Linked DNA regions of Homo sapiens: region 2 is linked to region 1. A link means that fine-mapping ties the variant in region 1 to the expression of a gene that starts in the linked region. Tissue or cell type: putamen. Region 1 holds a variant in brackets; the other region holds the start of a gene. All regions are shown on one strand. Distances are between the middles of the regions. Region 1 overlaps LOC105370834 (a long non-coding RNA gene). Region 2 holds the start of POLR2M (RNA polymerase II subunit M).

The links. PIP is the estimated chance that this variant, and not a neighbour inherited with it, causes the effect.
Region 2: it holds the start of POLR2M, and the variant in region 1 is fine-mapped to the expression of POLR2M in putamen (GTEx, PIP 0.99).

The regions. Positions count from the first base shown.
Region 1 is chr15:57,734,064-57,738,461 of GRCh38, forward strand. It overlaps LOC105370834 (a long non-coding RNA gene), which reads left to right. Exons shown (of 6, transcript XR_001751554.3): 2 at 1,404-1,591. Among named protein-coding and RNA genes, the nearest start is that of POLR2M, 30 kb to the left of the region's middle. The variant A/T (reference allele first, on the strand shown) is at 2,064.
Region 2 is chr15:57,704,765-57,709,162 of GRCh38, forward strand. POLR2M (RNA polymerase II subunit M) reads left to right here and starts at 1,950. Exons shown (of 4, transcript NM_015532.5): 1 at 1,950-2,191; 2 at 3,950-4,398. The coding sequence starts at 2,079. GCOM1 (GCOM1, MYZAP-POLR2M combined locus) reads left to right here. Exons shown (of 17, transcript NR_104371.3): 14 at 1,170-1,608; 15 at 3,950-4,398. RefSeq lists an enhancer at 1,845-2,064 and a silencer at 2,385-2,434.

The DNA.
Region 1 (4,398 bases):
TCTGTGAATTTTATGATTTAATCAAGTAAACAGGAGATTTTCCTGTAGGTTACATCTTCTAATTAATCTGTTCACAGTTTCCAGAAGATACTGTGTTGTATCATTAGTGGTTTTTCACATTTGTAGCAAACTTTTTCTTCACTTTATATTGGAGTTCAAAACAGATTTAATTCTTTTTAATTAACATGGTGAACAGCAGAGGATAAATAGTGTTGACCCCTTGCTGGTCTTAACTCCCCATCTGATCGTAGCTTGGACCAACCTTCAGATGCACTGGGCTCTTTTGAATGTTTATGCAAATTTCATTTATTCATGTCCCCCCTTTTTTTGGGTTCTAGGTACTTTAACAATTTGGATAAAATTCATTTGGTTTTGGAAAGGAGAAACTTTTAGTACATGCTTTCTTTTGTGCAGCTGATGAAAAAAATCCCCATCTGGTTCGCTAAAAAATACAATCGTGTTGTCTTTTGCCACTTTCACACGAAGGAAAAGGACATCATATAATCTATCTTTAGAATGTTCTCCCAGGTGTCTTACTCTGCAGAAACTTTAGGAAGTGAGTTTTGACAGAGGGCCTGGTTTCCTTTACTTTAAAGTCATTTTACTTTAGGTTTGCAAAAGAAGACAGGGTACATGACAGAGAGGGAGGGGAGAGAATGCACATGGGCCATGGTGAAAAATCCCATTGCTGATTCTAACTTTGCCTTACATAACATTAGGAGAAAAGAATAGGCAGGAAGTTGGAATCTGCAAGTAAGACACTCTAAAATCTGGATTCTGTATTCTTTTTTATTCTCTTAAATTGACTCAATGCTGCTGGTTGTAATGTCTAAGTGATAGCTGCTGATAAATATTATCTTTGTGAACACACAGGGCATCATCAAATGTCAAGTCTGCAGACTCATTTTTTATGCAAGCCTAGCAGATTTTTGTGGATATGGGCCAGGAATTTTAATGAAAGAAAACATCAAAGATGCAAAAGAAATGAGAATATTAGTCAAGGAAGATACACAGCGATGCTCTCTGATAACCCCTAGTATTGACATTAGAACTCTGTGGGAGCAACTTAAATAAACATCTGGACACTGAGTTTAGACATTTTCAGTGACAAATCCCAGACAGATCTTTTCGACTTGCAATAATAAATATTTCAGAGGCTATATGAATCAACTGAAAATCCTGTTTTCAATTATTCTAGTTTTATAAATAGAGCATAATTATTCAAGTATAGAATTTCTTTTGAAGATTAGGCGAATTTTATATTTCCTTTGTCCATATTATACTTCAGTTTTATTATTCATATCAAATTTATGTCTGTGTGTTCAAAAATAATATAGTTAGCTTGCCAGATACTATTAAATCAGAATCCAGCTGAGCTTGATTTTTTGTTACTTTATTTTCAGGAAAGACCGTTTTACAGCCCTCAGTACCGCAGTTCCATGAACTTGCTCAGCTTGGCAGCCGCAGCTAAGGACACCCGTGGTAGTAAAAGCGGGAAGATGGGCTCCCTGGCTCTTCTTACCAAACTCTGATTGTTTGGAGCAGTTTGACCATCATTTAGCCAGGAAGACACCAGAAGGATGGCGTGCTGGTAATGCTTCAAGACAGCCAAACTTTATAAAAAACCTGGTGGAAGTAAATATAGCTAGGCAGTCAGTGACCAAAGCTACTCGGATGGGCCTGTTGATTGCTATTGTAAATTTTCTAATATGAATACAGGCTTTTCTCTAGAGATTGAAAATAAGAAAGGAAAGTGAACCGTGATGAATTGCGTATATTACCTCCCGAGAGCCTAAACGCTCACATGTTAAAAGTTAGCATCTGCGGCAGGTAGTCCTTAATATTTATGATCCGCTCTGGCATTGAGAATGGGACATGAGAGGGACATAATGGTTAGAGACTGGCTAGATAACTCTCGTTACTTGGTGCTTGCCAGGGTATCCTTTGTGAAATAGTTATGTACACTCGTGCTTTTCCTCCCAGTCCCTGAATAGAATGACACTTATGGACCGGGACTGCCTCATGCTTGGGTCTGACAAAGATGCCCTTTTAAAATGCTTTGA[A/T]TAAAGAAGCCCTAGTTCTGCTTCTGACAGTTTCAGGGGAAGGAAGCTTTAGGCAAGCCACAATGTTTCTATTCATCCACTATCAAATCTATAATTTGATAATAGTAGCTAGTGTTCACTGAGCCCCTACTAAATGCAAAACACTTATTAGGACCTACATTAAGGAAATACATGTATATAATATAAAAAGTCACATAGAACTAGAAGTCTTATGAGGAAAAACAGAAATCCTCTTCTCAGTCTCATTCCATCCCTAAAGCAACTACTTTAGTTATTTCTCAGTGATTTATCTCCAGATTTATAAATAATGTGCTTATAGTACTATTGTTTCATTTCTAAGATAGACATTATCTACTGGATGAAGAGTGTGGTTTAGGTCTTATACTTCATCCATTCCCATTCTCTTACACTTCCACTCCCTTCATCCTTTCTATTTTAAATTAAATATTCAGTGTTTATATTATAATGACTATAAATAATATTTTTATTAATATTTTCAAAGTGTAGTGAGTTTCCTTCTTTACATGACTTGAGTTTGCTTTGGAATCTATAATCACTTTGTTTGTTTAATTTTCTATGTGTCTAAAAATGAAGTCTCAAATTTTCCAACAGAAGCATAGAGCTCCTTTCTGTATTGTCAAATGAGTCAAACAAACTATTATTCCATTCTCTTTGACTTGGAGGCTTCCCTGCTGGAGTTCTCCGTCCTTCTGCATTCTGGCCCGATGGGTCTAGTGATCTACCACACTCTGTCATTCTGAGATTTCCCTTCACTCTGACCCAAGGAATTCTCTTTACCACACTCCTGTATATGATCTGCTTTCTGGATCTCATGTCTTCATCTTTCTCATTTTTCTCTCCAATGTTGAGAAAACACATTTTTCAGCAAATATGAAAGTTGCAAAAAGGCAGCATGGGAGACGAATTTTTCCATACCTTGTATGTTTGATGATTTGATTTGTAGTTTGGCTGGGTATAGAATTCTAAGTAGGAAATCATCCCCCACTTAGGATCTGGAATGCATTAATGACTCTACTGTCTTTTAGCTTCGAGTTATGGAGGAATTCAATGGCATTCTGATTCCATATCCTTTACATGTGACTCCCCGCACCCCTTTCTCACTCTTCCTCTCTCTTCTGCACTCAACATTTAGGTCTTTTTTCTTTTTAATCTCTAGGATATTAAAATTCCATGAAGAACTCACTCAATCACTTTGGTGTGAGCACCCTCCACCCCTTCTTTTTTGTGGAGATGTGGGGAGAGCTGGTGATTGTTGGGCTCCTTTAATCTAGGAAAGTCTGTCTTAATTTCTGAAAAATTTTTCTTATATTAGTTAGTTGATAATTTACTCCTTGCCAGTTTCTGTCTTCTCATGTTGGAACTTCTGTTAGTCAGGTATTGGATCTCCTGGATAATTACTGTAATATTTTAATTCATTATAGTTTTCAAAAATTCTCTCTTTGAATTATCTGTTTCTTTCAAGTGCTTCCTTCCTGCCCCGCCCCCTGCACCCCATTTGCTTTTGGTCTCTATCATGTTAGAGGCTCTCTTCTAATCTCTTCTATCCTTGCTGTCAGGTGAATTACTAAAAGGTTGCGGGGAGGTTCTGTGGGTGGGCCTGGAGTGAGGGGGCACCCAGCCTTTATTTAGGAGATCCTCAGGTGTCAGCATCTGTCCCTCTATCAGGTTCTTTGGAAAGTCCCCTGCCTTTAGGGTGTGTCCCTGGCTGCCAGCATTTGGGGGATGGTGCTAGGACTCTCCCATTCAGCTTGCAGTCATTCATTCTATCCCCCTATTTCTGATAAATTGCCCCACCCTTCCTTCAGCATGCACCCTTGTGTATGCTTGAGTGTCTACTGAGTGTCCTCGAGTTCACCCCTCTCTGGTCTCTCTCACCAGCTGCAGGGGTTGGACAAACGGGTGTGGGGGTCTCTCCACACTTCATGCACATCATGAGCAAGTCCTATGGATTTTTGGCCCGCCTCTCAGTCTGACTTACAGAGGATCTCACTGCCTCCCTCTCTGAACCTTTCTAGGATTCAGTGGTGTAAATTGGCTTGCTTTGTATTGGTTTCTCCCCTCTGCAGACAGTTTCATGTTAGCTTTCTTTACACTAATGAAGGGGTAGATGAGTTGGTATTTTTTTATTTTTATTTTATTATTATTATTATTATTATTATTATTATTTTGAGATGGAATCTTGCTCTGTTGCCCAGGCTGGAGTGCAGTGGCGAGATCTCGGCTCACTGCATGCTCCGCTTCCTGGGTTCGCACCGTTCTCCTGCCTCAGCCTCCTGAGTAGCTGGGACTACAGGTGCCCGCCACCACGCCCAGT
Region 2 (4,398 bases), 29 kb before region 1:
AGACATGCCTCATTATGCCCTTCTTTCTTTTAGAATCCAGGAAAAGCTACACAGCATTTAATATCAACACATATACCTTGAGTCTGATAAGAAACACAACTTACTTTCTCTGAAGCCTGCTAACTGGAGGCTTCATCTGCATGATAAAATTTCGGTCTCCACAAGTTCTTATGCTAACCTAGACATTCCTTTAAATCAATTACCAATCAGAAAAAAACTTAAATTTACCTATAACTTGGGAGCCCATCTTGCCCCACACCCGCTCTGCTTTGAGTTGTCCCACCTTTGTGGATTAAGCCAATGTTTATCTTAAATGTATTTGATTGATGTCTCATGTCTCCCTAAAATGTATAAAACCAAGCTGTGCACCAACCACCTTAGGCACGTGTTCTCAGGATCTCCTGAGGGCTGTGTCACGGGCCATGGTCACTCATATTTGGCACAGAATACATCTCTTCAACATTTTACGGAGTCTTTTTTTTTTTTTTTTGTCAGTACCACAGACAACCACCTGACTCGAGGACCTTACCTATTTCTCATTCAGCCAATGCTGCAGCACGTTATTAACGTCCTTGAAAGCAAGTCTTATACAGAGAAAACTTATTTTGATATATTAATGAATCTGATCAGAATGGACCAGATTGGGGGGATAGATAAATGGTTGCAATTGTGCTCCCTGGAATAGCTTTGGAGTTTACCTAGATCTTCTGTCTCTTTAGGACAGAGCTGCTTGTGTTTATATAGCATCTTACACAGGATTGAGACAACTTCAATTTCCTATATCAAAAAATCGGGGGAGGGCGGTGGGTTATGGGGGTGTTCAAACCTCCCAAGTGACATCTGCTGTGACTGCATGTCTTCCTACTCTTTCCACTGGGATGCACCTCTGGTAGCTGAACTATAACGAGAAGGTAAAAGCTGTGTCCAATACCTATTAAGCTGCCTTCTTCTCAACAGCTGGGGAGGTGGCGGGGGTGGGGGGGGGCGGAGGGAAGTCTTTTCAACAGTTTTACACATTTGGAAATAGGCCTAAAGTGAAGAAGGGGATTTTCAAATTGGTGTGTTGGAAAAGGGGCTGGGCTTTTGAGTTTGAAATCTGGTGCTGTCACTTACTGGTTTTGTGCCCTGGGAATATTTATTTCAGTTTTCATGCCTCTGTTTTTCTATAGGCAAAGTAGAAAATTCGAAAAGGTCCTCAACGAGTTTGTACAGCTGCTCCCACTCCCTCATCACCTCTTGTGGGCCTTTGGAAATGTATGTTGGAGGAGACATTTTGGATTGTTGCAATGACTTGGGAGTGCCATAGCACCTAGCAGGCAGAAGCCAGAAACACCAAATGTCTTAACAATGCTTGAGGCGGTGCTACAAATGAAGTCCTTCTCCAAATGCATTGAGCCCCAAGAAAAATCGCTGATTCTGAGGAACCTTCCAACTTTAACAATTTCAGGACGTCCCTAAGCTGAGCTAGGAGGCACCACGCACAGGCCGGAGGCACCACGCACAGGCCAGAGTCTCCCAAATCCTGTCCCGCACTCTCTCCCACCTTATTAATGGCCAGCTCATCTTTCAAGTTTCGACTTGAACCACTTCTCAGAGATATCTTCCCAGGTGCCCATCCCAACGTTACTATTATATCATAATTTGATTCTCCCTCCCCCCATCCCCCCGCCAACTCTGTAAACCCCAAGTATAACACAGGACGTTGCTATTTGTTGACTGACACATAGTGCTTGGTGAGGTCACGCTGGCGCTGAATACTTTTTGTATAAACCGACGAACAGCTGATGACCGCATGAATGCTCACACAAGGGGAAAGGGCGCCAAGCCAAGGAGCCGGCGTCATCCGACGTAACTTCCGCCCTTTAACGCTCCTGCGGACGCCCCCTTCTCCCAGTCCGTGTTTGTTTCCGGAATTTCAATAAAGCTCGATTCGGCTCGAAGAAGACCCCGTTCTTCCGGGAAAATGGCGACTCCCGCTCGTGCCCCGGAGTCACCGCCGTCCGCGGATCCGGCGCTAGTAGCGGGGCCTGCCGAGGAAGCCGAGTGCCCGCCGCCGCGCCAGCCTCAGCCCGCGCAGAATGTGCTCGCTGCCCCGCGGCTTCGAGCCCCAAGCTCCCGAGGACTTGGCGCAGCGGAGTTTGGTGGAGCTGCGGGAAATGTTGAAGCGCCAGGAGAGACTTTTGCGCAACGAGTAAGCTGGGGTCCCGCGGAGTCTCCGCCAGGCTCCTTCAGCTCGAGCTCCCTGGGCGCTCCCCTCCCCTCCCGCACTCTGTTCCCTTCCCTGGAAGGTGACTTTGACTCAGTCACATTCGCTTCAGTCCTACGGGCGAGTGGACGGAGGGCTTGCTGCGGCAGAGCCGTGCCTCTTCCTGGCCAGGCACGTATGCCTGCGAGGATAGCTCGGATTGAACGGCTACCTGGCGTTGCAGGGAGTTAGTAGCCCCTGGTCGGTTTTATTTACCCGGGGACTGTGGTGGTTCCATGAGTCTGCTTTCTAAACCCTTTTGTCGCCCGCACCCCTAACCCATAACAGATTGTCAGCTTCATCTCTGGATTCTAAGCTTACAGGAACCGTAGGAAATGGGAAGAGTGGGATATGAAGAGGGGTTTATTAGGCCGGGAAAGTTCGACCCTCATTCAGCTGGCTGGTTGAACGGATTTTAGCAAGGGAGCCACGTAATAAAAGTGATTTTGTTTTTTAGGCAGCTTTGTTCAGCAGCTTGTTGCAAAAGATGGTTTGAAGGAATAAAAAGCAGAAGACAGTAGAAGGATATTTTCAGAGAGACTTCCCACGAGACACTTGTAAGAAAGTGAGCTAGGAAGGGATTGGGAGAACTTTTAAGCATGGACTAATTTAAATGCAGTTGACAGAGATGGCTGAAGTTTCCAATCTATATGGAAGACCACTAGCAAAAATAGGAAAATTCAGGGAGAGGAATAGATCCAAGGTTGATTTTACTTAGGGTGTGCAGAGTTGAGAGGAGAGCAGGACAGACATTTGGTTAATCGAAAACCAAACACTTAAAAGCTGGAGAAGTAGTCATGAGGCTCAAGAAAGAGAGAACCCTGGAAAAATACAGAAAACAGGAATTTCAGCTGTAGAGTGTTGTTAATAGTTGAAATTGTGGGGATGAATGTAGTGTCAAAAAGAACAGAGGACTTAAGGTGTAATTTTTTCTTTCCATTTATTGTATAGTTAAAGAAAAGGGAATCAGAAAAGGAACTCTGTCATCCAGCAAAAGGGACAAATAAATAATTGGTTGGGATCAAGACATGTGTTTTGACCTTGTGAGAATAGGTTTTGAATGTATAGCAGTGAATTAACTTTTTGGTCTCAGGACTCCGTTATACTTTAAGAATTATTGACATCCCAAAGAGCTATTTTATGTGTTGTATCTAGCGAAATGTATTTACTTATCAGAAATACGTCTGAAGTCTTTAAAACATAAGCATACACAAGCACACATTCTATTCTAGAACAATGATGTCATCACATGCCATGTAGCCTCTGGAAAACTCCACTGTACCCATGCGAGAAAATGAGAGGGAAATAATATCTTAGTATTATTATGAAAGTAGTTTTGACCTAATAGGCCCATCCCCACACTCCACCCCATCCCCAAATTTTGGAGATTGCACTTTAATGACTGCTGGTTCTTGGAATGTCTTATGTGATTATTATATGCTTAAAATACTTTTGCTGAAATTCTAATTTGCTGAGACAAATGAGGCATATATTCCCTATTCTTCCTGCATTCCCTTGTTTTTTGGGCTATTTGGATAATGACCATTTTAATTGTTTTATTCTTGTTTTGGGGCAGTTAGAAATCAGATATTTGACTTAAAAATCAGCTTTTCTTTCTTTGAAGATAATGCCTTGCCTTTTTAATGTTATATCTCAAGTTAAAAAAATGGCTGTAATGTAATAGTATTCTTTTCCATTTGACAGAAAATTCATTTGCAAATTGCCCGACAAAGGTAAAAAGATCTTTGACTCTTTTGCCAAACTGAAAGCTGCCATTGCAGAATGTGAAGAAGTTAGAAGAAAAAGTGAACTGTTTAACCCTGTTAGTTTAGACTGTAAGCTAAGGCAAAAAGCAATTGCAGAAGTTGATGTGGGTACAGATAAGGCCCAGAATTCTGACCCGATACTTGATACTTCATCACTAGTTCCTGGATGTTCCTCTGTAGATAACATCAAGTCATCTCAAACCTCACAAAACCAGGGACTTGGACGTCCTACTCTTGAAGGTGATGAAGAGACTTCAGAGGTTGAGTACACAGTGAATAAGGGCCCAGCTTCCAGCAATAGAGACAGGGTACCACCTTCATCTGAAGCTAGTGAGCATCACCCGCGGCATCGTGTTTCAAGTCAAGCGGAAGATACTTCCAGCAGCT